Homo sapiens: one gene and its partners. The protein of the gene in region 1 interacts with the protein of each later gene in a pairwise test. Each region holds a gene or a part of one and is shown in the gene's direction. Other genes may lie near its edges. The genes, in order: CEP19, ZBTB14, CREB3L3 and ZNF438.

The links.
Region 2: the proteins of CEP19 (region 1) and ZBTB14 interact in binary tests that used the Homo sapiens proteins (3 or more experiments, as listed by UniProt).
Region 3: the proteins of CEP19 (region 1) and CREB3L3 interact in binary tests that used the Homo sapiens proteins (3 or more experiments, as listed by UniProt).
Region 4: the proteins of CEP19 (region 1) and ZNF438 interact in binary tests that used the Homo sapiens proteins (3 or more experiments, as listed by UniProt).

What each region holds. Positions count from the first base shown.
Region 1 is NC_000003.12:196,708,166-196,717,643, reverse strand, and holds the start of CEP19 (centrosomal protein of 19 kDa), read left to right. Parts: upstream 1-5,393; 5' UTR 5,394-5,690; coding exon of another isoform or gene 5,691-5,715; intron 5,716-8,916; 5' UTR 8,917-8,986; coding exon 8,987-9,116; intron 9,117-9,478. Other genes in the region: PIGX (GPI alpha-1,4-mannosyltransferase I, stabilizing subunit isoform 1 precursor), read right to left, coding at 723-786, 5,000-5,111. UniProt on the Homo sapiens protein: Required for ciliation. Recruits the RABL2B GTPase to the ciliary base to initiate ciliation.
Region 2 is NC_000018.10:5,288,050-5,293,775, reverse strand, and holds the end of ZBTB14 (zinc finger and BTB domain-containing protein 14), read left to right. Parts: intron 1-448; 5' UTR 449-529; coding exon 530-532; intron 533-1,571; coding exon 1,572-2,918; 3' UTR 2,919-4,754; downstream 4,755-5,726. UniProt on the Homo sapiens protein: Transcriptional activator of the dopamine transporter (DAT), binding it's promoter at the consensus sequence 5'-CCTGCACAGTTCACGGA-3'. Binds to 5'-d(GCC)(n)-3' trinucleotide repeats in promoter regions and acts as a repressor of the FMR1 gene.
Region 3 is NC_000019.10:4,148,165-4,156,660, forward strand, and holds the start of CREB3L3 (cyclic AMP-responsive element-binding protein 3-like protein 3), read left to right. Parts: upstream 1-5,466; 5' UTR 5,467-5,583; coding exon 5,584-5,610; intron 5,611-6,734; coding exon 6,735-6,863; intron 6,864-8,496. UniProt on the Homo sapiens protein: Transcription factor that may act during endoplasmic reticulum stress by activating unfolded protein response target genes. Activated in response to cAMP stimulation. In vitro, binds to the cAMP response element (CRE) and box-B element.
Region 4 is NC_000010.11:31,027,826-31,036,354, reverse strand, and holds the start of ZNF438 (zinc finger protein 438), read left to right. Parts: upstream 1-4,489; 5' UTR 4,490-4,522; intron 4,523-8,529. UniProt on the Homo sapiens protein: Isoform 1 acts as a transcriptional repressor.

The sequences.
Region 1 (9,478 bases):
TCTATCTCATGCCACTGTGAAGATTAAATGGAATATTGTATATATAGGCACTAGTTGTATATATATAACAACCTCTGTATATGAGAGGGTGTGTGTAGGTTCTATACAAGTACTATGCCATTTGATATAGGGAACTTGAGCATCTGAGGACTTTGGTGTCCTCAGGGGAGGTCCAGGAGGAACCAATCCCCTCAGATACCAAGGGACAACTGTACGTGGTAAACAATACATACTTGTTTTCTTCTTTGCTCCACTCAGTTAATCATTATTTCAAAGTGTGAACCACATATGCCATCACTGAGTAACTTTGAGGAAGCAAGTGATTTTTCTTTTTTCTTTTTTTGAGACAGAGTCTCACTCTGTTGCCCAGGCTGGAGTGCAGTGGCATGATCTCGGCTCACCACAATCTCCACCTCCCGGGTTCAAGTGATTCTCCTGCCTCAGCCTCTGAAGTAGCTGGGACTATAGGTGTGTGTACCATCATGCCCAACTAATTTTTGTATTTTTAGTAGAGACAGCGTTTCACTATGTTGGCCAGGCTGGTATCAAACTCCTGACCTTGTGATCCGCCTGCCTCGGCCTCCCAAAGTGTTGGGATTACAGATGAGAGCCACCGCATCTGGCCTGATTTTTCAATTTATACAAATTTCAACCATCAATTTTTTGCTCTCAATTATATGACACATTATTTTAATAGAAATAGAAATCAACAGGCAACTTACCTGTGGAAACCATCTTTCAAAACTTCTTGCCTCAAAATAATTTCAGAACACATGGCCCTTATGCCTATAAGAACCAAACGATTTTTTTTTAAAAACAAAAGCACTGAATAAAATAATATTTAAATAATTATAAAAGAGTTATTTTAGTAGGCTTTACTTGCCTAGAAAATCTAACCAACCTAAAAACAAAACCTTTTAAAATTTAAGCAATTTGAAATATATATATAAATCTACTTCCAATATAGCACTGTGGTTAAGAACAGTGACTCTGGAGTTAGATTGCCTGATTTCAAATCCCAGTCTGTAACTTAACAGCTGTGTTAACTTTGGGCAAGATAGTTTATCTCTCTACTAGCTGTCGTAAGAATTTAATGTAAGTAGAAGCACTTAGAACAGTAGTAAGAATACATATTAAGTGTTCTATGTAAGTGTTTTTTATTAATATTACTTTATTCAGGTGATCCCAAGATACCAAAAAGGAACAGGATGGCTAAAGAGCCAGGAAATCTCCATTTTAATCCTTGTTCACTGAAACTGTGTATCAGATAGATACATACTGGCAACTTCTATATTCTAACATCCATGCCTACAAAACCAGGAAAATGGTACATTTATGCCTTGTGGAGATGCTGGAAGGTTTAAAAAAAAAACAAAAAGCAAAGCTGGAGGCACGTAAAGGTTCAACGGGTTCCACTGTAAACTTAGAATAAGCACAAATCTCAGTATACTGACTTCATCCAGATTCCAGACACTCAAGCTGTTACTCTGAGCCAGGTGTGCCAGCTCGCACTTGAGGTGGGAGGATTGCTTGAACCCAGGGGATGGGGGCTTCAGTGAGCTATGATTATACCACTGCACTCAAGCCTGGGTGACAGAGAGAGACCTTGTCTCTAAACACAAAAAAAGAAAACTATTACTCAATGTAAGCATCTTAAAACTGAAAATTCAGTTACTATTGACCAGCAACTCTGCCAGGCATTTGCTATGGAACTTTGTCCCATTTCAAAAGCTGTAAATCTGTGGGAAGAACATTTAAAAAACACACACAAGCCTGGACAACATAGCAAGACTCCATCTCCATTAAGAAAAATACAAAAATTAGCTACTTAGGAGGCTGAGGTGGGAGCATGGCTTGAGGCCAGGAGGCAGAGGGAGGCTGCAGTGAGCAGAGACTGCACCACTGCACTCCAGCCTGGGTGACAAAGCCAGACCTTGTCTCAAAACAAACAAACAAACCCCAAACACATACAGAAAACTATATATTATTTACATAATCCTGTTATTATCATTGAATATTGCTGAATCCATTAGATGTATTTCTGAAAAGATGCATTAAGAAAAATGATGTGAAGGTGAAACTATTTGAAGGAATGAAAAAAGAATAGAAAAAAATAACTGGTTAAATAATATCTAACATGCTAGATCCTCTACTTGGTGCTTTCATATGTGTTTTAACTTTCACGATCTATAGCAAAATAAGCAAAATCACTGCCATTTGTTTGCAGGAGGAAACTTGAACTTCTAAAGCATTAGTAAATGGCCCTGGGTCATACAACTAACTACGTGACCGATTAGAAGAAAGGTTTGCCTGATTTTTAAAGCCTAAGATACTTCCACTTTCAACACTAAAATTGAATGAAATTTTAGTGTTACAGCTCTTCGAGAATTTGTCTAGTTACATTTCACTGAAAAATCTCCAGCCCTCAAAAAAGAAATTGTATTTGCTTTGGAGAAGCATATGATCTTTTCCTGAATAAACAAATCCCCAAATTCCATATGTATCTTGTACCAATCCAGATTTTTATTTGTTCTTTTTTTATTTTTATTTATTTATTTATTTATTTTTTGAGACGGAGTCTCACTCTGTTGCCAGGCTGCACTGCAGTTGCACGATCTTGGCTCACTGCAACCTCTGCCTCCCAGGTTCAAGCAATTCTCCTGCCTCAGCCTCCAGAGTAGCTGGGACTACAGGCACGCGCCACTACGCCCGGCTAATTCTTGTATTTTTAGTAGAGATGGAGTTTCACCACGTTGGCCAGGCTGGTCTCGATCTCCTGACCTGGTGATCTGCCCACCCTGGCCTTCCAAAATGCTGGGATTACAGGCATGGGCCACAGCGCCCAGCCGAGCAAGGCTCTGCCTCTTAAAAAAAAGAACAAATAGCCTGGGTGCAGTGACTCATGCCTGTAATCCCAGCACTTTGGGAGGGGGAGGCAGGCAGATCACAAGGTCAACAGTTTAAGACCAACCTGGCCAACATGGTGAAACCCCGTCTTTACTAAAATACAAAAAATTAGCCGGGCGTCGTGGTGTGCACCTGTAGTTCCCGCTACTTGGGAGGCTGAGGCAGGAGAATCGCTTGAACCTGGGAGGTGAAGGTTGCAATAAGCCGAGATTGCGCCACTGCACTAGCCTGGCAAGAGAGCAAGACTCCGTCTCAAAAAAAAAAAAAAAAAAAGAGACAGGGCCTTACTCTGTCACACAAGCTGGAATGCAGTGGCATGATCACAGCTCACTGCAGCCTTGAACTTCTGAGCTCAAGCAATCCTCCCACATCGGCCTCCCAAGTAGCTAGGATTATAGGCCCACGCCACCACACCTGGCTACTTTTAAATTTTTTTGCAGAGACAGGGTCTTGCTATGTTTTCCAGGCTGGTCTTGAACTCTTGGCCTCAAGCAATCCTTCCACCTCAGCCTCCCAATGTGTTAGAATTTCAGGTGTGAGCCACTGTGCCCAGCACAAATCCAGATCTTTCTTCATCCTGTTTAATTTTAATGGGGGTAGGGTGGGAAGTGAGGACTGCTATCCAACTATAAATTAAATTAGAAGAAAAATTATGAACAGGCTTAAATTCTACTGGTATGTACACCAGACAGCAGTTGATCATTGGGACCGGAGAAAGGCTAATTTACAAATAGTACAGCAAATACTAGAATGTCATGATTTTAAAGGCAAAAGTACCATTTTTAAAACGAATTTGTTGAATGTGAATTTACCTTCAACATTTTTCCTCTTAACTATTACTTTGGTAGTGGTGAACTGGCTCTGGAAATTGACTTCTTTTTCCTTTTTTTTTTTTTTTTTGAGACAGAGTCTCCCTCTGTCACCCAGGCTGGAGTGCAATGGCGCGATCTCGGCTCACTGCAACCTCCGCCTCCCTAGTTCAAGCGATTCTCCTGCCTTAGCCCCCTGAGTAGCTGGGACTACAGGGGCACGCCATCACGCCCCGCTAATTTTGACCCCTTTTCAATTATAAAATGCTAACGTTGGAAGCCTCTACAGATTACCAAATCCAACTGTTTAAAAATTCTTCTGGCCGAGCATGGTAGTTCACACCTGTAATCCTGGCACTTTGGGAGGCTGAGGAGGGTGGACCACCTGAGGTCAGGAGTTCAAGACCAGCTTGACCAATACGGCGAAACCCCGTCTCTACTAAAAATACAAAAAATTAGCTGGGCATGGTGGCGGGCACCTGTAATAATCCCAGCTACTTGGGAGGCTGAAGCAGAAGAATTGCTTGAACTTGGGAAAGGCGGAGGTTGCAGTGAGCCGAGATCGCGCCATTGCACTCCAGCCTGGCAACAGAGTGAGACTCCATCTCAAAAAAAAAATCTTCTTGGCCTCATAATCCTTTGTTTAGATAAACTTGAAAACCCAATATGTAAACACACAAGCAGAACTGCACTGATTGACAGATACTAAACGGATCTAAATGATACCAAGGATGACAGAAACATCCTCATTTTACAGATGGAGAAACTTGTAGGGTTTGTGCTTTCCTCCCATCAAACCTTACCCTTTATTGTAATTATTCCCGCACTTGCCCGTCTCAGTAGTACAAGCAGTTTGCCAACTACTACTTGCACGAACAACTAGCAGTTTGCCACGGAGTCCTACATTCAGTTTGGGGATTCTCAGGCCTCACAGGGCGCTAAGGCCTTGCCTGGCCCCTTGGTGATCAGAAGCTTCGTGCAGCTCAAGAGCATCCCAAGACGCTTGACGGCTGACTTTCCTTCTCAGAACTTTAGTAACAGGGCGGCCAGTCCAGCCTGGGAACCGCAGGGCCCGAGCCCGACTCTCCCGGAGACCCGGGATCCGCCGCAGAGCAAAGCGCACGGGAGGGAAGGAGGGCACACGGCTCTAGTGTCTGACCTCCTCCGGCTCGCCCTACTGATCTAGGTCCCGCGCCGGGTCCCCACATCCCCGCAACCCGCCGAGAGGCCCGGGAGCCGGGACCGCTCCCACGCTCTGGCCCCCCAAGCCCCGCCCCCCTTACCGGCGTCAGAGCGCGCGGCGGTGAAGGCCGCGGCGGGCCCGCGCGTGAGCCCGGTCGCCGCCCCGAGGAGCAGCCAGGCGGCCGCCCGAACCGCCGCCACCCGAGCCGCCAGGACGCCGGAAGCCGGACGCCCGAGAGGGGCGCGCGGGGCCAGGTGCGGACGCAGGAAGGGGCCTGGCCGCCCGCAGCTCCTACCGCGCGCTGCCCCAGATTTATCGGCTGGGACCGAGTGCTGGGTGCGCGCGCCTAGCGCCCGCGGTTCCCAGCTGCCTGCAGCCCCGGCCCCCAAGGGTTCCCGCGCGGCGTGGGGCGGTCGTCCCCGCCCAGCTGTTCCTTGCTCCGCCCACCCGGGGGCGGGCGAGGAGCTGCGCACGCGCGGGGACGCGCGCCCGGCCTGTCGCTGTGGAAACCGCTAGGCCAGCGCTCGCCGGGACCTGGAATCCCTGTACGCCGAGGTGGGAGCCGGTGGACCGGTCCCCCAGCCGGCCCCCACCTCCGCTTCCCGGTGTTTGAGGGTTCGGGCCTCCCGCCGGGGAGTTCACCCCTCGGGCTCGTCAGTAGGGCTGTGGCTGTCGCCTCTTCCTGCAGCGCCAGGCTCCGCCCGGTCTCACAGTCGGCTTAGGGGCTTTGCGTGCACTGCGGTTGGGTGGAAAAACCCACTCCTGGTTGTTTAGACGTTGGCCTGCAGACGATGTCATTTCTGTATTCCTCTAAGGGTAAGAAAGCCAGCCTTGCACTAGTGGAGACGTGAGTAGGGAGAGAATCGTCTACTCTTTGGGGACATTCGTACCCTTAGGTGCTGTGGGGCTTCCTAACAAGATTGTGGGCAGTTACTGATCTCTGGGGAGAGGAGTATTCGTGTCCAGGAAGAATAATTGGATAAACGTGCCGTCCTTCTTCCTAAACAGAGTGGAATCTGTAAGCAGGCCAAGAGAGCATCCAGGCGGCTTGGAGTGGAATAGAGGGCTCTAGAGCGGGTGTCTCAAAGAGGAAACAGAGTGTATGTCAAAACATACTATCCAAAACTGAAAATAGCCGGGCAGGTGGCTCACGCCTATAGCCCCAGCACTTTGGGCGAATCACCTGAGGTCAGGAGTTCGAGACCAGCCTGGCCAAGATGGCGAAACCCCGTCTCTACTGAAAATACAAAGATTAGCTGGGCATGGTGGTAGGCACCTGTAATTCCAGCTACTCGGGAGGCTGAGGCACGAGAATCGCTTGAACCCAGGAGGCGGAGGTTGCAGCGAGGGGAGATCACGCCACTGCACTGCAGCCTAGGCGACAGAGGGAGACTCTGTTTCAAAAGAAAAAAAAAAACTGAAAATGGTAGTATAAGCATGTTTCTTAAGAAATGGAGAGAGAAATTTTGGAAGATATGCCTTTTAAAATTCAGTCTGGCTCCCTATGAAGAGGAGTAGGGCCAAGGACGATAGTTTGTTGTTATAAGCCTCATAGAATTATTTTATATTCCAAATACAAACATTACTTTAGCAAAAATTAAAGTTAAATTTTAAAAAGAGTCTAGTAAAAAAAAAACTACATTATTTGAGTACCAACTGCATACATCTTTGACGAGTACAGCCATTGCTTCAGTGTGTGGAGTTTATATGTGCCCCGTAGGTTGTAGTTTACTAACATCAAATTTTAGTTAGGTGAATTGGGAATAGTATTCGTTAAAAAAAAAAAAAAAGCAAGAAAAGAGAAGGAAAAGAAGGAGAAATGGTGTGAGCTCATTGCATCAGATTAGAGGTAGAGCACAGTAATTTTTTAAAGTAGTTTTTTTTTTTTTTTTTTTTTTTTTTAAGAATAGGCGTATCATGCTTTGGAGAGGCTGTTGTGCAGTGGCACCATCTCAACTCACTGCAGCCCCAAACTCCTGGGTTCAGGCGATTCTCCCACCTTGGCCTTTGGTGTGGCTGGGACTACAGGTGCATGCTGCCATGCCTGGCCAATTTTTAAATTTTTTGTAGAGACATGCATGGTCTCGCTGTGTTGCCCAGGCTGGTCTCAAACTCCTGGCCTCAAGGTATCTCCTCTCCTTGGCCTCCCAAAGTGTTGGGATTACAGGCCTGAGCCACCACACCTGCCTCCATCTTTTTGAGATGGAGTCTTGCTCTTGTCACCCATGCTGGAGTGCAGTGGTACCATCTCAGCTCACTGCAACCTCCGCCTCCCAGGTTCAAGTGATTCTCCTGCCTTGGCCTCTCGAGTAGCTGGGATTACAGGCACCTGCCACTATGTCCAGCTAATTTTTGTATTTTTAGTACAGACGTGGTTTTCACCATGTTGGCCAGGCTGGTCTCGAACTCCTGACCTCAAATGATCTGCCCACCTTGACCTCCCAAAGTGCTGGCTGGGGTGAGCCACTGTGCCTGGGCTTATATGTGATTAATTTTCTAAGAGTAAAAATTCTCATGCCCAACAATAAGTGGTGAATAATATGATTATAGTACATCCATAAAATAAAACATTTAGCAGTCATATAAAATGTTACATTGTAGTAAAACATTTGATGACAAAATAATAATATATGTTGTTAAATTTGAACGTCAGGAAATAGCTTGTATGATAAGGTATGTATGAAACATACTATAAACTATATGCCTAGAAAAAAGACTGGACACAATCAAGGGTGATTATTTTCTATAGGTTTCCCCTCTCCTTTGCCCCCAGTATTCTACAATGACGTGTATAATCACTGCTAAGTATTTAATAAAAAGTATGTTCCTAATAGTGATTCTCCAGCAGAACTGAGTTCACGAAGATATCATCACCCTATGCCACTTTACCTCAATGTTTCTTGACATTTACAAATCTTTCTGGGAATGTCACAGTCACATCAAAAGCAGTGCTTAGGGTTAAGTGTATTCTTTGGGCACTGAGGGTGGGGAAAGGAAGAGAGAATAGTAAGTATTCATCTACAAATAGCTGTTTCTTGTAGCTAGAAAATTATCATATAGTGAGACACACAGGCCAAAATAAAAGCCCTGCAGACATTACTGACTATTGTATATGAAGAAGCTGAGATATGTGATGTATATGATGTAGCTGCAGACGTTACTGACGTGTATATGAAGAAGCTGATTCTGCAGCAGGTCTGCTTTTTGATCAGGCTTCTAGACTGTAAATGCTTTCAAAAATGTACAGGGACCATCATGTTAATTCATAGCATTAAACAATGTATGGAATGCCCACTACGTTCCAGGTATTATGCTGAGATATTGTGGTGGAAAATGAATATGCCCCCCACCCTCATGGAGCATATTGACTAGAAGGGAAGATAGATGATTAAATAAATAATGACAAAAAACTCTAGTAAAATAATTGGGAAAGTACAAAGGAGACAGTTCTGGATTGGTGAACCTCTCAGGACAAAATGATTAAGGTTAAAAAACTTACCTTATCATAGTACCTTGATACCGAGGATGCTCGATATGCCCTTTCTTAATTGATAAATAGTAAAGACCCTATAGGTCAGCTATTGGGCTGACTTAGGGGTTCATATTCGATCTTCAGTAAGAGTGCAGTACACTAAGAGGTTCAAACTGGATTGCATCCCCAGATTCACATATGAACAAGTCTATATCCTTGAAAAAACCAGATCTTAGGGATCCAACAGGTTGAAACTAACCCAGGGCCAAGCTGAACTTTCAGGGCAGTTCTCAAAATAACTGAGCTTTGTGGTCGTTCCCGCGCACATACCCCACAATTGGAATGATACAGAGAGGATCAGCATGGCCCCTGCGCAAGGATGACACACAAATTCATGAAGCAGTCCGTATTTTAATTTTAAAAAAAATGAGTTTCACAGGCTGAGCGTGTGTGGCCAGAGCCGGACTAGAACCAGATCTTCTGGGGCAAAGGGGCGAGGGGAATGAATGACATTTATCCAACACCTAGTTGTTTTTTCCCTTTAGCAGGAAGTCATTATGCAACTTACACATATTCATCAGATTTCCTCTGACTTACCCGGACATGTACATGGGAATGATGTGCACTGCCAAGAAATGTGGGATTAGGTTTCAGCCTCCAGCTATTATCTTAATCTATGAGAGTGAAATCAAGGGGAAAATTCGCCAGCGCATTATGCCAGTTCGAAACTTTTCAAAGTTTTCAGGTACCTCATGTCTTATCTTGCCTCCTGTCTTAAATATTCTCTAAATACAGGTTCACATCATGACTCTGTCAGGGACTGGATGTGTGACACTGGATGAATTACTTACTCTCAGTGAGCTTCAGTTTCCTAATCTATAAAAGGGAATTGTAGTGTTTTTTTCCAATCTGATAATTAATAATCCTTTTGGGATTGCTGCCTAGGTTAAATGATATAGCATTATTCAATAATATTAATTCCCTTCTCTCATTCCAAATGTTTTTTATTTGTAGTCTTAATATTTTATTAATACCACTACTGCTATCTAAAAGCTATAATATCACTTTTCTTCTCAGACATATTCTCCAGTTGAAAGTGTTTAATAT
Region 2 (5,726 bases), on another chromosome or scaffold:
TAGCTTTATTTGTAAGGTATATACTTCTATAGGTTTGTATGAGCCGAGAGAAAAATGTAGAGGGCTAACATACCCAGCGGGAAATGGGATAGGTGTAGGGGGCACGGTGCACTTGTTTTTTTCTATATCTGTGTAGCCATCAATCTCTGTACAAATATGGACATGAGCTTAGTGTGTGAGGAGAAATCCCTTAATGGTTCTCCAACCCCTCCTTCCAGTTCCTAGGGCACAGCCCCTTTATGCCCGAGTGCTACAGCCCTTATCTGTTCTAGTCCATATCTGTTCAGAACTGCACTTGATGTACCAGCTACCTACCTGCCACTCTCCCCAACCTGAAAATGCACAAAAGAGGGAACAAGAAAGTTTATTTTTAAAAAATCAATTCTTGGTTTAGGATTTGGGATACAGGAAGATCCTACCTCATTCTTGTTTATCCTTTCCTCTGTAGGTCTGGCGTGCTCCTGATCAGAGTTACTCTGATCTGAAGATTTTGGCGTTCAAGGCATTAAGATAATAGCCTGAGTTGTTCATGGTAACTATAACTTTGGATATTAAATCTTGATGAAAATGACTTGGCATTTGCTTTAAAATATATATACCAATTCTGATTGTGCATGAACACTTCTATTTGTCTGGGGGAAAATATTAGCCGAATAAAAGTAAAACAATGTTTTTAAAAAGGAAACATAGAGAATGCTTTAAGATGACCAGTTTTTTAACATGATGACAGAGATCTTTCATGCCAGTTCCAAATTTTTGCTTATAAAATACTCTCAGCACTTATCAAGTACTTACATCTGGTGTTGATGGCACTTTTATCTGGATGCAGGTAGATTGGCATCTAGAGAGAACAAAGCCACTTCCCAAATGTCATCTCATTCTCTTAAGGTCAGATTAAACCTTGACCTTCATTTAGAAGTGGCCCAAAAGTGCTGTGGAAAATCTAGAACACAACACTCAATGGGATATTTTGGCAGTAATGTTCCTCTCTAGTTCTGCAATAGTAATTTGTTCCTTCTGTCAAGGAGGTATAACATAATTATTTTGCTGAATCCTCCATAGAGTAGATGGAATAAGAGTAGGTGCAACAGAGAGGACTAGAGGATTGTTCCCTTGAACCTGTTTCTTAAAACTTGAGTTTGAGTTATTTGATTATCTCTAGTCAGGAAGCACTGGTTTTGCAGCCAGATTGTCTGCATTTAAGTCCCAGCTCTTCACTAAATAGCTATAGAATATTGGGCAGATTTCTAACTTTGTCTCTAAAATAAGGATAGTGATACGTACTCATGAGGTTACCTGAATATTAAATTAATTAAAACATGTAAAGCACATAGAACAATGCCTGGGATATAACTAGGCAAATACTTAGTAAATTGAAGATGAACAGGAGTAACAATATGGAGATCCTTGAGTTGGGATCAGTCTTTTCTACCCATATTCAAAGACCACTCTTAACATTGACTTTCTGAAATTGTTAGGTTCCATAGATTGACCAGGAAATGAAAATGTGACTGTGTTCTCTATATGGAAAAGTACTATTTATAATTACTAAACTTTTTTTTTTTTTGTAGGAGTTTTTCATCAGTATGTCTGAAACCATTAAATATAATGACGATGATCATAAAACTCTGTTTCTGAAAACACTAAATGAACAACGCCTGGAAGGAGAATTTTGTGATATTGCTATTGTGGTTGAGGATGTGAAATTCAGAGCACACAGATGTGTTCTTGCTGCCTGCAGCACTTACTTTAAAAAGCTTTTCAAGAAGCTTGAGGTTGATAGTTCTTCGGTCATAGAAATAGATTTTCTTCGTTCTGATATATTTGAAGAGGTCCTGAACTACATGTACACAGCAAAGATTTCCGTGAAAAAAGAAGATGTTAACTTAATGATGTCATCGGGTCAGATTCTTGGTATCCGATTTTTGGATAAACTGTGTTCTCAGAAGCGTGATGTGTCCAGTCCCGATGAAAACAATGGTCAGTCCAAAAGTAAGTATTGCCTTAAAATAAATCGCCCCATTGGAGATGCTGCTGACACCCAGGATGATGATGTAGAGGAAATCGGGGATCAGGATGACAGTCCTTCTGATGACACAGTAGAAGGCACACCCCCGAGTCAGGAGGACGGCAAGTCGCCCACCACAACGCTCAGGGTTCAGGAAGCGATCCTGAAAGAGCTGGGGAGTGAGGAAGTTCGGAAGGTCAATTGCTACGGCCAGGAAGTAGAATCCATGGAGACCCCAGAATCAAAAGACTTGGGGTCCCAGACCCCTCAAGCCTTAACATTTAATGATGGGATGAGTGAAGTGAAAGATGAACAGACACCAGGCTGGACAACAGCCGCCAGTGACATGAAGTTTGAGTATTTGCTTTATGGTCACCATCGGGAGCAGATTGCCTGCCAGGCGTGTGGGAAGACGTTTTCTGATGAAGGCAGATTGAGGAAGCATGAGAAACTCCACACGGCGGACAGGCCATTTGTTTGTGAAATGTGCACAAAAGGTTTCACCACACAGGCCCACCTGAAAGAACACCTAAAAATCCACACAGGATATAAGCCCTATAGCTGTGAGGTGTGTGGAAAATCATTTATCCGTGCCCCAGACTTAAAGAAGCATGAGAGAGTTCACAGTAATGAAAGACCGTTTGCGTGCCACATGTGTGACAAAGCCTTCAAACACAAGTCTCACCTCAAGGATCATGAAAGAAGACACAGAGGGGAAAAGCCTTTTGTGTGTGGCTCCTGCACCAAGGCATTTGCCAAGGCATCTGATCTGAAAAGGCACGAGAACAATATGCACAGTGAAAGGAAGCAGGTTACCCCCAGTGCCATCCAGAGCGAGACAGAACAGTTGCAGGCGGCAGCGATGGCTGCGGAAGCAGAACAGCAGCTGGAGACGATAGCCTGTAGCTAGAGGCGGTGGGACAGGGACACTTTGCCTGGAAAGTGGAGACTGAGATGACGTGGATCATAATGAGTGAATGCCAGTTACAATATTTTTGTGGAAACGTATGGAACATTGTACTCACTGGACTTAAGGCAGTGCTTGGTTAGCTATTTTTAAGACTTTTCAAGGAAATGGTGTTCCTCAGTTCTGACCAAACCGTTTCACTGTCTTGTCTGGTGTCTAGTATTAATGTTGCCCAGTAAGCACCTCTCTCCCTTTTTTTTTTTTATTATTTTAATTTGAGAACTCCTGTGTCCAGTTTAGAAGTGAGAGACTTCCATTTTTAGTTCCTTTACACTCACCACCCTAGCAAGTGCCCTGCACAGAGTAATAAGTAAATTGATTTCCTAATCACAATTCTATGTGACTTATGGTCAAAAGAGCAGTTTTAATAACTTTAAAAGTACTTCAGATAGACGCAGAAAATTGGTGAGTGGTTGACCAAGAACACTGCACAAATATAAAAAAAGTTCTGGAAATGCAGAATGGCGTTAGATTTATATTTGGTTTGTTAATTTTATATCACTGTTTTTCACTGTTTTTGTGGACAAATAATGGTTGCTTTGCTGAAGTGTTCTTCCTCAATCTTGATTGCCCTGTACCTACCCAAAAGCTGTAGTCACACATCCTAAAGGCCAAGCAAACCCACCGGGATGGTGGGGGGTCTTGGAGCCAAGCTCTTAGGTTCCTCTTATTTGGGGCAGTACCAGTCCATACCAGCTGCGATTTGTGAGTGGACCTGTGGTAAGAAGAATAGAAAAGGCTCTCAGAGATAAGGTTTTTTACATGTGTAACAATCCCAAGATTTCCTAGATTAAAATCTTAATTGATTTTGAAATTGGATTTTTATTTAGAATCAAAATTAGGACAAGAACAGATAACTTCTTCAGATACATTTGTGTAACTTTACAGAATGTCATCAAGCTTTGGGGCTCTGTGGGGCACATGATTTATCCATAAAGGAGATGCAGTATGCTTACTTAAATTAATAAATTTAAAATCTTTTAAGTGTGTAAATAGTAGTGTTGGTCTTACGTATTTCAAGTAAAAAGTAGACAGCTGCACTTTTTTTGCACATTGGATTAAAATAACTTCCATCAGCAACAAACATCAGACTGTTTTTAACAAATATTAAAGATTGTCAGACCAAATGTTTATGTTTTCGAAATATATTTCATCACTGGTTACAGTTTTAAATAGAAGTTGATTGCCTTTTCATAGCCGTAAATGAGAATTATAAACTCTATTCCAGTTTTGGTATACTAAATGTTCTTTTAACCATCTTTAGGAATATATTGAAATGCCAACAATAGTTTGAATTGTGTTCTGTAAAAAAGTATTAGTCAATTATTTTTCAAAATGTAGAATTGTAGAAAATGTCAATTTTTCAAACTCATTTTTCATTGCTAGGATTTCTTTTAAAAAAATTAAAGTAATTTCACTTCATAGCTTGTTGCATTAACACCTGTAATTCTATTGTGAAAGAAATTTGATTTTTTAATTGGTGTGTGTTATGCCCAAGATGTTAGGATGAAGATGCTACCTTTTTAAAAATTTTAGTTATTGGTAAAATGTTTAATTTTACTTAAAATTAATTTCTTTTCTTGAAAGTTGTTTATTCTGTTCTAAAAGTAGTCCTGTCACTGTGTTTTTATGCTACTTATAGAAGGGGAACTGATTGCCGTTCCTAGGCTGTTTTAACCAAAGCAAAGGAAAAATAATTTTAACATCTTGTCAATAGCTACTTCAACAAACCATATTTTGGGACTTCATTTTTTGTATATAAAAGAAAATATACTTCTATCATTCCTCTTTTCATTTTTTCATAGCAACCTTCCACATACCTAGATTTCTACCAAAATGTATTTTGTATGCTAGCTTCATCCTGGCTTTACAGAGTTGAAGTTAAACATGTGATATTAACCTCCTTTGAAACCACATAGTCATGGTGGTAACCCCCAAAAAGAAAGGTTAATTTTCAGCAGTCTATGTGATGCAAATATTTATCATTTAGCCTATTTTGCATGAGAAATGTATTTGTGTTATTTCTGCCACTGGTACTGGGTTTACACGTGTGTTAGGGCACCTGTTTCCTTTATATATTTTTGGTGGCAGCAGAATCCTATCATGGCAGCTCTCCTGTCTGCTGGGTCCTGGTCAGTAACACTGCCTCTCTACACCTGGCTGGATTTGGTAGTCCTCTGCATAGTGGAGCCATCGTGTTAGAGTCTTCAAGTTACCTCCAACACCCTAGGGAGTTAATTCTGAAATGTGGTTACTCTGAATCTGTAATGTAAGAGGAAGGTCAAGGCTAAGTGTCAACATTACTACCTTTTCATTACTTACAAATCATTGACTTTTTTCTGTTTTTACAGAGAATGCTACAAACTTGATGTTAGCTTTTGTGCTTAATTTGCATTGTATTGGCACTGATTGAGGAAGAGAAATTTAGGAAGTTTAAATGTAAAGTAATTTGCCGGCCATTAACTTGATCACTAATTTAGAATTGTTAGAAAATACAGAGGTCGCCATCAAGTGAGGTTGACACTAACAAATTCACCCTATTTTGTTAGGAAAAAAAAGACAAGATGAGGGAAAATGATGCAAATTTATGTAGTTTCCAACTTAATGGGTTATTTTGTGTAGTTATCTGTAAGTCATTTGGAAGGTGGGATTCATTGTCACATAGTAATGCTATTAGTGGTGTTTTGTTCTCAGGATTAGCAAGCCTTAGGGTGCAATTGTAGTAGAGCTGGCACATAGTAAGGATTGTGG
Region 3 (8,496 bases), on another chromosome or scaffold:
AGTGAAACCTTGTATCAAAACAAACAAACAAACAAACAAACAAACAATGATGTGTTAGCAATAAAGTGACAGAGAGTCTACAGAGGGAACATGTACTTAAACACATTGCTGAAAATGACTGCAGGAATTTTACTTTAGATTCCAAGTTATTGTCCCTTTGAGATACGTAGTCGTGTTCAGTGGATAAACTGCTATGAGGTCAATGGCAGTGAAAAGTCCTTCTGTCCCCACAAGAGCTTCTTTTTCTTCTTCTTCTTCTTCTTTTTTTTTTTTTTTTTGACAGAAGCTTTCTCTGTGGCCCAGGCTGGAATTTAGTGGCGTGATCTCGGCTCACTGCAACCTCTGCCTCCCAAGTTCGAGTGATTCTCCAGCCTCAGCCTCCTGAGTAGCTGGCATTACAGGCGAGTGCCACCACGCCCAGCTAATTCTTGTATTTTTTAGTAGTGACAGGGTTTCGCCATGTTGGGCAGGCTGGTCTCAAACTCCTGACCTCAGGTGATCCGCCCACCTCGGCCTCCCAGAGTGCTGGGATGACAGGCGTGAGCTACCATGCGGGCCAAGTGCTTATTCTTATCCTCCCTGTTAACAGATACCTGAAATCCCTTCATTGAGGTGTACAAAAGGCTTCTAAAGTTCATAATAATAAGTATTGTTATTTTTGAGAAAAAGTCTCGCCCTGTGGCCCAGGCTGGTGCAGTGGTGCAGTCACAGCTCATGGTAGCCTCAAACTCCCAGGCTCAAGCGATCCTCCTGCCTCAGCCTCCCAAGTAGCTGGGACTACAGGTGTGCACCACCATGCTTGGCTAATTTTTTTTTTTTTTTGAGACGGAGTCTTGCTCTGTCGCCCAGGCTGGAGTGCAGTGGCGCGATCTCAGCTCACTGCAAGCTCGGCCTCCTGGGTTCACGCCATTCTCCTGTCTCAGCCTCCCGAGTAGCTGGGACTACAGGTGCCCACCGCCATGCCCAGCTAATTTTTTGTATTTTTAGTAGAGACGGGGTTTCACCGTGTTAGCCAGGATGGTCTCGATCTCCTGACCTCGCGATCCGCCCGCCTTGGCCTCTCAAAGTGCTGGGATTACAGGCGTGAGCCACCATGCCCGGCCCTTTTCTTTTTGATAGAGGGTCTTGCTCTGTCACCCAGGCTGGGGTGCAGTGGCATGATCTCGGCTCACTGCAGTCTCCACCTCCTGGGTTCAAGTGATCCTCCTGCCTCAGCCTCCCGAGTAGCTGGGATTACATGTGCCCGCCACCACATCTGGCTAATTTTTGTATTTTTAGTAGAGACGCGGTTTCACCATGTTGGCCATGCTGCCTGGCTAATTTTTTAAACTTTTTTGTAGTTATGAGGTCTTGCTCTATTGCCCAGGCTGATCGGGAACTCCAGGGCTTGAGCAATCTTCCCGCCTCAGCCTCCCAAAGGGCTTGGATTACCGGCATGAGCCACGGTGCCCGGCTCCAGCAGGTTTTGATAAGAGAAGGGGGAGTGATCTCTCTCGAGGGCACTAGAACTCCCAAGAGTGATAAACGGGGTGAGGAGAGGCAGAGAGGAGTCCAGAAGTCAAACATCACCTACTTGATCCACCCACTGTGATGGCCCTGGAAAAAAGCCTCCACGGCAAATGCTGAATAAATATTATGACTGGGATCACTAAAGCCAAGCCAAGGCAAACAACCCCTCTAAAATCCAACACAGAGCAGATAAAAGGAGATCAGAAAAATGTAGAGGTCAAGGGCGAGATAATTCTAGTAGCACCCAGACAGGGACAGGTACCGTTATCGGGGTCTCTTCTTGGGCCCCGTGGAGCTTGGGGACCCGGATCCTTCTATGGGGTGGGGCCATCCTGGGCACTGGAGGTTGCTGAGCAGTGTCCCTGGCCTCCACCCACCCCGCGCCAGGGCCACCCCCCTTTGTTGTAACAACCACAGATGTCCTCAGACATCACCCAGTGTCCTCGGGGGAGTGTAAAATCACCCTGGGTGAGCTCCCCTGGGTTAGGGGATTCCATGGACCCCCAAGAGACTGTATCCCGTGATGCTCTGCCCTGCTGAGGTCCCAGGAGGCTGCACACATTGAAATCCATGCCCTGAATGGGGAAGGAGGGAGGAGGTGAATCCCAGGATCTGGGGTTCCCCTGGTTTATACCGTCTGCCCTGTTGGGAGTTTATTCTGGTGTCTGGTGTGAGCAGGGAACCCACTCAATTTTTTCCCAAATAATTAATGCAGTCTTTCTCCCCCAGATCCCGTGGCTGTGGGGCAGGATTGCTTTCTGGGGTGGGGCCGTCCTGGGCACTGTAGGGTGCTGAACGGCATCTCTGGCCTTCACCCATTCTATGCCAGGAGCATCTCGCACTCGTGACAACCACAGATGTCCCAGACATTGCACAGTGAGTGTCCTGAGTTTCCGTCCGGAAGGTTGAGGCTGCAGTGAGTTTTTTTTTTTTTTTTTGAGATGGAGTCTCGCTCTGTCACCCAGGTTGGAGAACAGTGGCACCGATCTCGGCTCACTGCAAGCTCCGCCTCCCAGGTTCACGCCATTCTCCTGCCTCAGCCTCCCGAGTAGCTGGGACTACAGGCGCCCACCGCCACGCCCGGCTAATTTTTTTTTTCGTATCTTTAATGGAGACAGGGTTTCACCGTGTTAGCCAGGATGGTCTCAATCTCCTGACCTCGTGATCCACCCACCTCGGCCTCCCAAAGTGCTGGGATTCCAGGCATGAGCCACTGTGCCCGGCCTGCTGCAATGAGTTTTGATCACAGCACTGCACTCCAGTCTGCCCTAGTGGAGGGCAAGTGCAGTAATGTGAGTTAGTGTTGGATAAAAGAACCATATCGTGTGTGGCATATGGTAGCCCCTTATTGAATTTTGATTTCATGAATACATATGAGTGATCCATTGAAAAATATAAACCAGGCCGGGCGTGGTGGCTCATGCCTGTAATCCCAGCACTTTGTGAGGCCAAGGCGGGTGAATCACTTGAATTCAGGAGTTCAAGACCAGCCTGGCCAACATGGTGAAACCCCATCTCCACCAAAAATACAAAAATTAGCTGGGTGTGGTGGTGGGAGCCTGTAATGCCAGCTACTCAGGAGGCTGAGGCAGGAGAATCGCCTGAACCTGGGAAGTGGAGGTTGCAGTGAGCTGAGATTGTGCTACTGCACTCCAGCCTGGGCGACAGAGCGAGACTCTGTCTTGAGAAAGAAAGAAAGAAAGAGAGAAAGAAAGATAGAGAGAGAAAAGAGAAAAAAAGAGAGAGGAAAGAAGGAAGGAAGGAGGGAGGGAGGGAGGGAGAGAAGGAAGGAAGGAAGGAAGGAAAGGAAGGAAGGAAGGGGAAGGGAACCAGGATGTGAATTTTTTTAGAGCAAGGAGGGCACATAAATTACCCCTCTCAACCTAGCACATGGCACAGTGTCCAGCAAACAGAAAGCTTGATTTAGTCTCCTATTTGCTAAACTTCCAACAGTGCCCTGCTGTTTAGCACAAACCAAACTCCTTGCCACAACACACAGGGCTTTGCACGACCTGCCCCGTCCCCTCCCTGCCTTCCCCTCCTCCCTGCCTTCCCCTCCTCCCTGTCTTCCTCTCCTGCCTGTCTTCCTCTCCTCACTCTGCTCCAGCCACAGGGGTCTCATTGCTGTTCCTCCAATGCGCTAGGCACGGACCTGCCTCAGGGCCTTTGCACAAACTGTGCCTCTGCCTGGGACACCTTTCCCCAGACCTTCCCAGGGCCAGTTCCATCTCATCCTTCAGGACTGCACTGAACATGTCATTTTTTTTTTTTTTGAGACAGAGTCTCACTGTCGCCCAGGTTGGAGTGCAGTGGTGTGATCTCAGCTCACTGCAACCTCCGCCTCCTGGGTTCAAGTGATTCTCCTGCTTCGGCCTCCCGAGTACTGGTATTGCAGGCATGTGCTACCACACCCATCTAATTTTTATATTTTTAGTACAGATGGGGTTTCACCATGTTGGCCAGGTTGGTCTCAAACTCTTGACCTCAGGTGATCCACCCACCTCGGCCTCCCAAAGTGCTGGCATTACAGATGTGAGCCACCACGCTTGGTCTAATATGTCATCTGCTAAAGGGGGACTTTGCCTGGGCACAGTGGCTCATGCCTGTAAATCCAGCACTTTGGGAGGCTGAAGCAGGTGGATCATTTGAGCCCAGGAGTTTGAGACCATACTGGCCAACACAGTAAGACCCCATCTCTATAAAAAAAAAAAAACAAAATTAGCCAGGTGTGGTGGTGCACGCCTGCAGTCCTAGCTACTTGGGAGGCTGAGACGGGAGGATCACTTGAACCCAGGAGTTGGAGGCTGCAGTGAGCTATGATCCTGCCACTGCACTCCAGCCTGGGCAATAGAGTGAGACCCTGTCCTCCACCAACACCAAAAAAAAAAACAAAAAAACAAAACAGGGCTCCTCTCTCTTGGTAGGGGGTGGAGGGGAGGTCAGAGACACCTCTCAGCCACCCGGGCTGATTCACAAATATCGAACATTCACTAAAATGTCAATACAGTGACCTAGAGCCAGAGGGGAAGAGGGAGGGTACAAGAGGAGAGTTCCAGGCAGAGGGGCGAGCAGGTGAGTAGGTGCAAAGGCCCTAAGCAGGAACCAGTTTGGCTCCATAAATATTTGTTGACTCAATGAACGATAGAAGATTCTAGAGAGAATTGATTGCACAGAATCACCCATGGGGACTCAGAGGCGGAGTCCAAGCTGGTTTCGGAGGGGGCTGGGGGCCGGAGGTTGGCAGGTGGGGTGAAGGATGGGAGCCGCTAGCTGCTGGCAGGAAAACTGGCTTCAGTGAAGATCTGGTCTGGTCCTCTTGGTTTGTTTCTGTCCAGGGAGTGGACAGGACCCATGTAAGGGCCCTGGGCTATCCCAGAACCCATCTGGGAATTCTGAAGAGAAAAAGTCCTGTAACTGGCCGGGTGCGGTGGCTCACGCCTGTAATCCCCGCACTTTGGGAGACTGAGGGGCCGATCACGAGGTCAGGAGTTCGAGACCAGCCTGGAAAACATGATGAAACCTCGTCTCTACTAAAAATACAAAAGTTAGCCGGGCATGGTGATGGGGACCTGTAGTCCCAGCTACTCGGGAGGCTGAGGCAGGAGAATCACTTGAACCCAAGAGGCAGAGGTTGCAGTGAGCCGAAATGAGATGGCACCACTGCACTCCAGCTTGGGCCACAGAGCGAGACTCCGTCTCAAAAAAGAAAGAAAAAAAGAAAAAGTCCTCATAAGTAGGGCAGAGGTCACGGCAGAGTGGAGGTACCCCAGACTTCGACCTTTGCTCACTGAGGGCTGGAAAACCACAAAACACCCAGATAACGGTCTTCCCTCCCCTGCTCCTGCCTGCCCCAGTGTCACTGGCCCTCAACCCTGTCTCTCCACCCTGTCCACCAATCAGCACCTGGAGGTGGGCTGGGAGCTGCCTGTGACCGCTTCAGCATCTTTTGGGAGTGGTGACAGAGCCACAGAGGGCTGTGAGCTTGCCCGGCCCCAGGTAACGCTGGCGGTGGGTGGGCCTCCAGCTTGGAGCAGAGACCCCCCGAGGCATCTGCAGACAGAACTGGATGGACCCATGAATACGGATTTAGCTGCTGGAAAGGTGAGCCCTACTAGGTCCCCAGGGAGAGCGGGAGTCTAGGCTGGGAAAGCCTACCCAAGCTGCCAGAGCTGGAAGGACCCCATCTCCACCCCTATTGTACAGATGGGAAGACTGAGGCCCAGAGAAAGGATGCAATGAGCAAAACTGTGTGCCTTTGCCCCGGGGCTGCCCTTGTCTTTCTTCCAGGTCCCCCTGCCTCCTAGGAGCGGGCACTTGGGGAGGCTGTGAAGGCCTGAGAGGCAAGCGGCATCTCTAGCTAGGGCCTCTCTCCAGCACTTTTTATTTTATTTTATTTTATTTTTATTTTTATTTTTTGAGATGGAGTCTCCCTCTGTCACCCAGGCTAGAGTGCAATGGCACGATCTCAGCTCACTGCAACTTCCACCTCCTGGGTTCAAGAGATCTTCCTGCCTCAGCCTCCCAAGTAGTTGGGATTACAGGTGTGCACCACCACGCCCGGCTAATTTTTGTACTTTTCCTAGAGACAGGGTTTCACCATGTTGGCTAGGCTGGTCTCAAACTCCTGACTTCAGGTGAGCTGCCCGCCTCGGCTTCCCAGAGTGCTGGGATTACAGATGTGAGCCACCGTGCCTGCCATACTTTTTTGTTTTTTGAAACAAGGTCTTGCTCTGTGACCCAGGGTGGAGTGCAGTGGGGTGGCCATAGCTCACTGCAGCCTCAACCTCCTGGGTTCAAGGGATCCTCCTACCTCAGCCTCCCCAGTAGCTGGGACGACAAGTGTGTGCCACCGCAGCCAGCTAATTTTTTTAAATTATTTGCAGTAGGGATAGGGGTCTCTATGTTGCGCAGGCTGGTCTTGAACTCCTGGGCTCAAGTGATCCTCCTGCCCCGGCCTCCCAAAGTGCTGAGATTACAGGCATGAGCCACCACATCCAGCCTCTCCAGCACTTTAAGAGAAATTGGCTCTCACACTGTGGAATTCTCTCTATCAGCCTCAAAGTCCAGATTTGGAAAGGGAGTCTCAGCGAGGGGCAGCAGCTGGCCCAACCCGGAGGCAGAGCGGCAACTGAACTCTAGCCGGAAAGAGCCAGGGTTATGTGCACATGGGAGGTGGGGAGGACAGGGGCTGTATGTGACCCTCACATCTGTTCCTCGCGCCCCAGATGGCTTCTGCTGCCTGCTCCATGGACCCCATCGACAGCTTTGAGCTCCTGGATCTCCTGTTTGACCGGCAGGACGGCATCCTGAGACACGTGGAGCTGGGCGAGGGCTGGGGTCACGTCAAGGACCAGGTGAGGAGTCCACTGCAGTTGCCCCGGGACCACAGAGCTCCAGGCGGGCCAACTGAGGCCCCACGAAGGTGCTAGACCCGCCAGAGCCCAGCCAGAGCTCTGCTCAGCTCTACGATGCACTAATGGGTCACGGTGCTTGATTTTAGCCAAGCACATCATTTAGCGGGTAGCATCAGCTCCTTCTTACAGGTGGGGAATGGAGGCCCAGAGCAGGGTGGAAACTCATCCAAAGTCACACAGCAATTTGGAGTTAGGTTCAAACTCAAACTTGGGGCATCTCCCTGGCTAGGTTCGGTTCTCTTCTCCTTCCTCTCCTTCCTTTCTCTCTTTCTTCTTCTTTTTTTTTTTTTTGAAGGAGTCTCGCTCTGTTGCCCAGGCTGGAGTGCAGTGGTGCCATCTCGGCTCACTGCAACCTCTGCCTCCCGGGTTCAAGCGATTCTCTTGCCTCAGCCTCCCAAGTAGCTGGGATTACAGGCGCCCGCCACTGCACCTGGCTAATTTTTGTATTTTTAGTAGAGATGGGTTTCACTATCCTGGCCAGGCTGGTCTTGAACTCCTGACCTTGTGATCCACCCACCTCAGCCTCCCAAAGTGCTGAGATTACAGGCGTGTGCCACCGCGCCCGGCCCACTTTCTTTTTTTTCTTTCTTTTCTCTCTCTTTTTCTCTTTCCTTCCTTCCTTCCTTCCTTTTTTCCTTCCTTTCTCCCTCTTTCTTTTACTCTCTTTTTTTTTTTTTGAGATAGAGTTTCACTCTTGTCACCCAGGCTGGAGCGCAATGGCGCGATCTTGGCTCACTGCAACCTCCGCATCCCAGGTTCAAGTGATTCTCCTACCTCAACTTCCCGAGTAGCTGGGATTACAGGCAGCCGCCACCACGCTCGGCTAATTTCTTGTGTTTTTAGTAGAGATGGGGTTTCACCATGTTGGCCAGGCTGGTCTTGAACTTCTGACCTCGGGTGATCCACCTGCCTTGGCCTCCCAAAGTGCTGGGATTATAGGCGTGAGCCACCACACCCGGCCCTTTTTTCTCTTTCTTTCTCTCTCTCTCTCGTTTCTCTCTCTCTCTCTCTCTCTCTCTCTCTCTCTCTCTCCCCCCCTCTCTCTCTGTCTCTCTCTCTCTCCCCCTCCCTCCCTTCCTCCCTTCCTCCCTTCCTTCCTCTCTCTCTCTCTTTCTTAGACAGAGTTTCGCTGTTGTTTTGCCCAGGCTGGAGTGCAATGGTGTGATCTTGGCATACCGCAACCCCCACCTCCCAGGTTCAAGTGATTCTCCTGCCTCAGCTTCCCGAGTAGCTGAGATTACAGGCATGTGCCACCATGCCTGGCTAATTTTGAATTTTTAGTAGAGACGGGGTTTCTCCCTGTTGGTCAGGCTGGTCTCAAACTCCCGACCTCAGGTGATCTGCCCGCCTTGGCCTCCCAAAGTGCTGGGATTACAGGCCTGAGCCACCGTGCCTGGCTCTTTTGTTTTTCTTTTTTTCTTTTTTTTTTTTTTTTGAGATGGAGTCTTGCTCTGTTGCCTAGGGTGGAGTGCGGTGGCGTGATCTCGGCTCACTGCAGCCTCCGTCTTACGGGTTCAGAATCTCCTTCCTCAGACTCCCGAGTAGCTGGGACTACAGATGCCCGCCACCACGC
Region 4 (8,529 bases), on another chromosome or scaffold:
CTCATGCCTGTAATCCCAGCACTCTGGGAGGCCCAGGCGAGAGGATTGCTTGAGGCTAGGAGTTCGAGACCAGTCTGGGAAACACAGCCAGATGTCATCTCTATGAAAAGTAAAAATAACCAGATGTGGTTGTGCATGCCTGCAGTCCCAGCTACTCAGGAGGTTGAGGTGGGAGAATCCCTTGAGCCTAGGAGTTCAAGGTTATAGTGAGCTATGGTCTTTCCATTGTACTCCAGCCTGGGCAAGAGCCTGTCTCAAAAATAAATAAGTAATATTTAGTAAGTCTAACCCCATTTGAGGCTTGCAGAAGTTACTGGACTTGCCATAAAGTACCCAGTTAATAACAGAGCTGGCCCTGTTCAGTGCTTTACTATGTTATGCTGCATTGCCATTCAAAATGACTTGTCTCCTAAAGGAATTTTCTCATCAGAATTATTTCTATTGACAGTATCCCCTTTTTAGAAAATAACTAGCATCTTGAGTAAGAAAGCTACCCAGTCTTTGAATTCGAGTTCATCCATCCATTCACCACGCATTCCTCTACACATATTAACTGATAATCTATTTGGGATACTACATGTAGAGGATTCGAGGTTAAGACTCACATTTCCCCTATTCTCACAGAGCTTACAGTCTAGGAGAAGAAGCAATTAAAATAATTTGCAATGCAGAGAGCCAAAGCTGCTTAGGGAAGGCTTCTCAGAGTCAGTTCCTGCAAAGTAGAGACCTAAAGGATTGGGGAGAATTAGCTAAGTAAAATGATGAGGGAAGGGAGGTGATAAAATGAGATGAAATACTGTGCAAACTGTGTAACTGCAGACTTGTAAGACTGTTATTAAACAGACATCCCTCCAGAGCTCTCCAATCTCTGTCCCAGGTCTTCTTCCAGCAAAGTCTCTATCTCTGCTCCTTTGGCAGAATAAGCCCCCTTTTAACCTGTGTAACTCTTGTTTTATAGATGGTTATTTTGTTGTTATTAGTATATTCTTGGGTTTGAGTTGGAGACAAGGGCCTATCTCTAATCAGGAGTGACCTGATTTTTATGTCAATTACCTGGGAAGAGATCATCAAACCAGATCCTGGGACTTAAGAGAGGAATGTAAGGGGATTGCAGAATGGGATTTTGTTTCCCTTGGTCTTGATCCTGAAGGATAAATGATGCATGTTAGTTAGGCAAGGCGTGGTTATAATAGTGTTTTTCAAATTTTTTTTGATTGAAATCCATAGTATGAAATACATTTAACGTTGCAACCCAGAATACACACATGTGGCTGAAAGTTTCCCCTAATTTGTGTTGGGAAAAAAATACCCTTATTACATGTGATACAATCTGATATTTTGTATTTTGGATTCTGATTAGTGTTTTTCTGAGTAGCTACCCTTTAACCGATCACAAAATCAACTTACTGGGTCATGATGACCACCTTAAAAAATCAAATAAAAGCAGTCATGCAAAGATGGGATGGAAAACAGTGAAGAAGATACCCATACACTGTGGTCAGTATTTTAGAGCTAAGTCCATATTTTGGACTTCCTAAGTCCCTCTGTTTCTTGCATAATTTGTGCCTGGTTGTATGAAACTTGAGACAGATTAGTGGTTATGGCTGTGGGTTCTGAAGTATGAAGTCTGGAATCTTGACTGTGTTACTCAGCAGCTGTGTGACATGGGCACTTAACCTACTTACCTTGTGTTTAAAATGGGGATAGTAACAGTTCTTATCTAGTTGCAAGAATTCAAGGAAATAATGCAATGCTTGGCACAGAATCAATACTCAGGAAATATTAGGAATTATATTTCTTTCACTTTTATTTTCCCCATACATTAAGTACTCTGTTTTGTCTTAATTCAGCTTTTCTTAGCTTGCTAAGCAGGACCAAGGGAAGAGATGTGTGTATTGACATAGAGGGCTCTGGAAGCCAGATTGCTATGGGCAGCAGATATCAAAGAGAAAGAATCACAAGGGGGAACTGAAAGCCCAAGGGCCATAGTGGAGGGCCTCAGTGCTTCCAGTGCTAAACCTCCAAGGTCCAGGGTTTTATTTTCTTTAAAAAAGCAGATCCTCTCTTTAATAACAACACTTTTGGCCCTAGCTTCTCACTTCCTGTCTAGGTCAAATTCCAGTTTGTTACAGAAAGTTGACTGAACGTGAGTGGTATTTTCCCACAAATTTCTACTTGACATTCCTTGAGACTGTGATCCTTGCTTGGGTACCTTTACTGTTGGCCATCTTTTGTTCACTGCGTTTACTTTTTTCCTGCATCTAGCAAAACAACGACTTTTTTTTTTGAATACCTGAGATTTCAAGAGAAAGTATACTGAACAATACGATGAGAAGACTATATTCTACAATGCCATCTTTCAGAGGCAAAAGTATCTATAGTAAAAACATTTGATACATTTGGTGTATGCTTCTTACCCATTTCCACTCCAAAAAATAACAGATGACATGTACCTGTGAAACACTCCCATAAGGTATACCTAGAAACTCACTTAAAAAAATTACGATTTTTAGAAATGATATATATAAAACATTTTATAAGCATGTAAACTATTAACAATTTAAAGGTTTCTTAAAATTGTTTTGCAAGGAAAAACATAAATATCACTGTTTTAAAAATATGCAGGACTTTAAAAAATGTTAATTTTTCTATACCTCTGCTCTACAGAAAAACCTTATTGTTACAATTATGGTACAGCCTTTACAAATTTCTTTTACATCATTTGATAATAACTAATATTCAGATAAAATATACAAATATTTTTTCAAATCAGAACATTTAAAAACACTGACGTAGATTTTTCTGGAATAATAAACGTTTTTATTTTTAACCAGCTCAGATCTCGAATTAAAGCCTAATATTCCCATCATCACTCTTTCCTGTAAAAATAAGACAGCACTTTCAATGAGAGTGGAAATAAACCATTGTTTCAGGTTTTACTTACAACTGGAGCTGCCTTGCAAAATCCCTGCCCTGGCCATCTGCCGTGGTTCCAAATAAGTTTGTAAAAGTGAATCTTGCCATTTTCAATACTTCCTCCTTTGGGTCTATTTATTCCGAAGTCTGTTTTTCTCATTCTTTTAATTTTTTTCCCCCCAAGACGGATTTGTCTGAGACACTTTTTTGCCATAACATTTGTTTTTTCTGCTTACGAGAGTGTAAGAATTCCACAAGCCAAATGTTAATATTTTGTTGTCAGTTCTTTAAGCCTTCATTTTTTCCGTCTATCGAGCCCTTTTTTTTAACCAGAACTCATTGCTTCTGAGAGTATAAAAGAGCAAAGAGGCCGGGCGCGGCGGCTCACACCTGTAATCCCAGCACCTTGAGAGGCCGAGGCGGGCGGATCACGAGGTCAAGAGATGGAGACCATCCTGGCCAACATGGTGAAACCCTGTCTCTACTAAAACATAAAAATTAGCCGGCTGTGGTGGCGCGCGCCTGTAATCCCAGCTACTCAGGAGGCTGAGGCAAGAAAATCGTTTGAACCCGGGAGGCAGGGGGTACTGTGAGTTGAGATCGCGCCACTGCACTCCAGCCTGGGAGACAGAGAAACACTCTGTCTCAAAAAAAAAAAAAAAAAAAAGTGGGGAGCAGAGAGCCGGACTTGGACACGGGAAGGTATCGTGACATGAGTGGGTCGGGGGCTGGAAAGTTTGCCCAGGCGAAGAAGTGAACATGTTTATCCGGATCACCGTTTGTTAAATGAACAGCAACCCATAGGTAGCTTCACCGAGCCGAAACGGGAAAGGCGGCAGGCAAGGGAGAAGCTAAAATCTGCAAGAAACGGGCTGGGCTGGAGGCGGCGCCAGGGCAAGAAGGGCAGGTGGGGGCCCGCGGGAGCCGGGAGCCAGGGGCGGGAGCCGGAAGGGCGGGACCCAGGGGCAAGGCCTAAGTGGGCGTGGGAGGGGCATAGTCAAGAGATGGGCGGGGACTGCTCGGGGTCTGGGCGGAGTCTAGCGGGAGCCGCGTCGAGCCGGGGAGGAGCGAGGGACCCTGGGAGAGCTGTCTTTTCAGGGCTGAGGACCCGCCAGCACCTGATGGAGAGCAAATGGCTGTTTCCACACGTGGAGAACTTTTAACGAACACGTGAGGAAGGCGGGCAATGTCTGTGGAAAAACTACCTCACAACCCAGGCGTCTTACTCCAGCCCCCAGGGCGACAGCTTGTTTACAGTATTTCTGAAGGTCTCCGTCCCCTTTTGTCGGCCCCTCCTCCTCCTCTAACCCCGACTTCAGGCTTTGAGTGAGGCTTTGGTAGAGCAGTCGCCGCCGCAGGCGCCCCGGTCGGCGAAGCCCACAGGCATGCGGGCGCAGAGGCCGTCTGCGCCTGCGCGGGGTGTCTGCTACGGGGAGGTGCGTGGAGCTCGAGGGCGTGGAGCTCGGGGGCGTGTCTCCCGCCGCGGCGCCGGGGCGGGGCGAGGGCGGAGCCTGGGGGCCCAGCGGCCCGCGCCCCGTGGCTTGACCTCCCCGACTGCTGGGCCCGTGACGTCACCCCGCTGTGACGCGCACGCTGTAGGAAAACTGTAAGTTTACGAGGATTCCTGCAGCTCCTAGGGCTTGCGGGGCCCGCTGGCAGCTGGCAGTCCCGGCGGTGGTGGTGGCTCTGGGGGCGTCAGTTCCTTGGGGAGTCGCCGATTGTGGCGAAGGGACAGGTGTCTGCTCAGAGTGGCAGCGCGCCCTGCTGGGCGGTAGGGACCTGGGGTGCGGGAGGCGAGGCCGCGCCCCGTGGGGCCGGGCCAGCACCTTTTCCCCTGGGGCGGGGCGCGTCTCCGAGCCTGGGAGCGAGGCCTTAGAAGGGGCGGAAAGTCCAAATGGAGAGTCCCTTTTTTTCTTCCGTGATAAAGGGACTTAGATTCCTTTTCTTCCCCCTCTCAGCCTTGGAGTTTGACATGTTAAGTAGGGGATGGAAGCTTCCTCTCAGAGAATAGGAATCCTATGTCCTGGCCGTTGGGATCCCACAAGTGACCAAGTCATCGTGGACACATTTATAAGATAACCAGTTGCTGCCTCAGTTTTCTTTTTTGTGTAAAAGGGAGGTACAGCAGCCTCTGGCCTCCCTAATGGTTGTTCCCACAGCACTAGGAACACGTGAGATAACACAAGTGTGTAAATTTGCTAGGAGAAAGCTTATACACAGACACTTGGTTATTCTGAGGAATGTGGTAGCCACTGGCTATTTGACCAGGAATCTTGTAGAAGGGGAACTTTTTCACTGTTTTGCCTCCCCCCGACAACCTTCCCTCCATCTGATTCTATACCACACTGGAGCCTGTTGGGTGATCGAACTGTTGTCACTAAACTTGATAGAATGGGGATCCCAAGAAATAACAGGTATCGTTAGCACGGTACTCTTGGCAATTACAATGCCCCCGTTGTCTGGGTTTTGCAGAGGAAGCTTTCAGTGTGCTGGAACTAGCACATTATAGACAACACAGACTCACTGAGTTTTAAGGATTGCTGTATCGATTTGGAATATCCAATCATCGTATCTGACTGCTTGAATATTTTGGTCAAGGGGTACTACATTATCGATTAGTTATTACTAGACTATAATGCCTCTCAAACTCCGGGACTAGTAGTCTTCAGGAACTTTGAAGGGAAGAATACTGTGCACACTTCAGGGTGTATTTATACAGGAGCTCGAGAGTTCACATTTCTGTAAATTCATTTCAGGAGTGTGATATCTTTTCATCCAGGTAGGAAGAGCCTTTGAATCAGAAAGCAGGGCTTCTAATTTTTGTTCTATTCGTTAACTAGCTTCGTGTCCAAGGACAAGTCACGCAAACTTGGAACTTTGTTTTTCTTATCTAAAATGAGAGCCGATGGTTTATCTGTTTGTTGGTTTTTCCAGGATCAAATGAGATCACGAGAGTGCAAATGAAAGGCTAAGTGTGCTATTGTTATTAGGAGATTCGCATTGGTCCCCTAGCCTGGATGAGATGTGAGTCAGAAATCTCTGGAAATAGAGCAGCAAAGAAGACAGCCTCCAACCTAGCAGGGCTCATATTGCAGTGGGAAATAGACAACGAACAATACGTGCATAATGTAATTTCAGGTAGTCATAAGTGCAGTGAAGGGAAGGAAGAAAGGAGGACAGTGGGGGAACAGGGAAGGTTGTTTTTGGTGGGATCTGTCAGGAAAAGCCATTCAAAGGCAGGGACACTTGAAGTGTGAGGGAAAGAGCCTGAGGTAAGAACATTTCAGAGAGGAATAATTAATAGCAATGAACACTTAAAAAAAGTAGAGCTTACCATATGTAAGGCACTATTCTGAACACTAAATTAAATTTTTACAAGTCTTTTGATGTAACCTAGTATCTCCCTTTCATAGATGAGGCAACTGACACACAGAAAGGTTAAGAATTTGCCAAAGTTGCACAGCTAAAACGTGGTAGAGACTATTTGAACGTGGGCAGTCTGACTTCAGAGTCCAGGCTCCAGGTGACTGTATTTTCGGCCTCACAGCAGGAACAGCACAGGACAATGCTCTGAGGTGGTCCAGACACAGTGAGAGTGTTTAGAGCACAGCCGGGAACGGGGAAAGTAGTGGCCAATGATGGTCAAGGGCCAGGCAGGCCGTGGGGTCCCTTGTAGGCTGTGGTGAAGTAAAGATGTTGTTCTAACTGTGATGGAAAACCATTGGAAGGTTTGCATCAAGGGACTGGTGTCTGATTTAAGTTTTATTGTATGGAGAATTAACTGTAGATTAGAGTGGGTCGGATGGAGTGAAAATCGGGAGAAAGCTGCTGTGCCCTGCAGGTGAAATGATGGTGGTTTGGGCTGGGGGAGGTTAGTTGTGGAGATGATGGTAGGCGGTAGAATTGGTGATACGTTTTGAAGGTAGAGCTGACGGGAAACGAGCTGATGTGGAATTTGAAGAAAAGGGAGAAGTGATGATTTTTTAGGTTTAGGCTGGAACAACTAGAAGTATAGTGGTGCTGTTTACTGAGGAAAATTACAAATTTAGTTTTGCACAAGTTCTAAATGCCTGTTAGACATAGTCATAACAACAGTGCTAGTAAAAATAGTATTATGTAAGCGTAAACTGAGTCCCAGGCAGGGTTTTAAGTACTTTAACCTATATTAATTCATTTAATCATCATAAGAATTATATGTGCAAGGAACCATTATTGTCCCCATTTTACAGCACGAGAAAATAGAGGCAAAAAGAGGTTATAAGTGACTTGTCTGAAGTCACCCAGCTGGTGAGTGATGTAGCTAGGATTCAAACCTAAGCATTGTGGCTTTGGAGTCCATGCATTGAATCCCTGTAACCACCTCCGAGTGAACATGTTGAGTATGCATGCCTGTGAATATGGAACTCAGGGGAGTGGTCAGGGTTGGAGATACCCATTTATTTTTCTGAAGAGAAAGCATGCTTTTGTTTTTCATCTAAGCTTTGGTTGTCTGTGGGAGAAAGATTATAGGCAGTGGGACTGTGCTAACTGGTCTTTGATTACGACCTGACTGGGTTCATGCAGCCAGTATCTGGTATTCCCCACTGTAGGTTCCGTAGGGGCAAGGTCTGTCTCTTTGACTTCTCTATCTCTAGTCCCTAATCCAGTGCCTGCTGTGTAGTAGATGTTAGGGATGACTTTATATAATGGGCATTTGGTTAGGTTTTGGAAGTTCAGAGATGAATAAAACAGTTCTTTACCTTAGAGGAGCAGGGTATGAGGAAAAACCTGTGGGAATAAAATTAGAGTAGACTAAATGCATAAATACATGCCGATTAGTTCATTTGGGTTTTCTGCACCCTCCCCTCCCCAGCTTCCATGACTTGTGAGATGGGGCATGAAAAGGGCAAAGGGGCAAAAGAATGCCTAAGCTGTTGCAGGATGAAGTTGAGGCTCCCCAAGAGTCCTTTTCAACAAAAGAATTACTCAAAATCATGCATATTTTACTATATTTGCATTAGCTTTATTTGGCAATGATAGAATTTTTACCAAATGAAATAAATTCTGATATTTGACTGTCCTTTTGAAGTGATGAGTTTTTCCAGTTCTATTACCTCAGTGTTGACAGGGCTCACCAGAGAAATAAGGGAGTTGGCTTGAAATGTTGCAGCTTGCATAATAGAGGGTGATGGAGGGGTTGGGTGAAGTATTCAGGCAGGTTTCCACCGGTTTAAGTGTGTCATGCCAAAGTTCCACCTATTGGAATAAGTTTGAGTTTCTTTGCTGACCATCTCTAACATTGACATGTATTTTTTTTTTGTCATAGAAAGGGGATCTGGTGATATATATTGTAGGTGGAATTGCAGATTACATCTCGTATAGCTGGATCATTGTAGAACATGGAGACTAGAAAAATACAAACAAAAAAAGATGTGTCTTGTTCCCGTAGATCTTTCATGGCATACCATAACCTCAACAGTTGTCACAATTTTGTTACTTCCTAACATGAGTATTTCAAATTTAAACCATGTAAGAATTATATAAAATTGCACTGCCGTAGATTTTATGGTTAATTTCAGAATTTTTAAAAATATATAAAATTATATTTTGTTTTAAGCTTTCATTGGGAAAGTA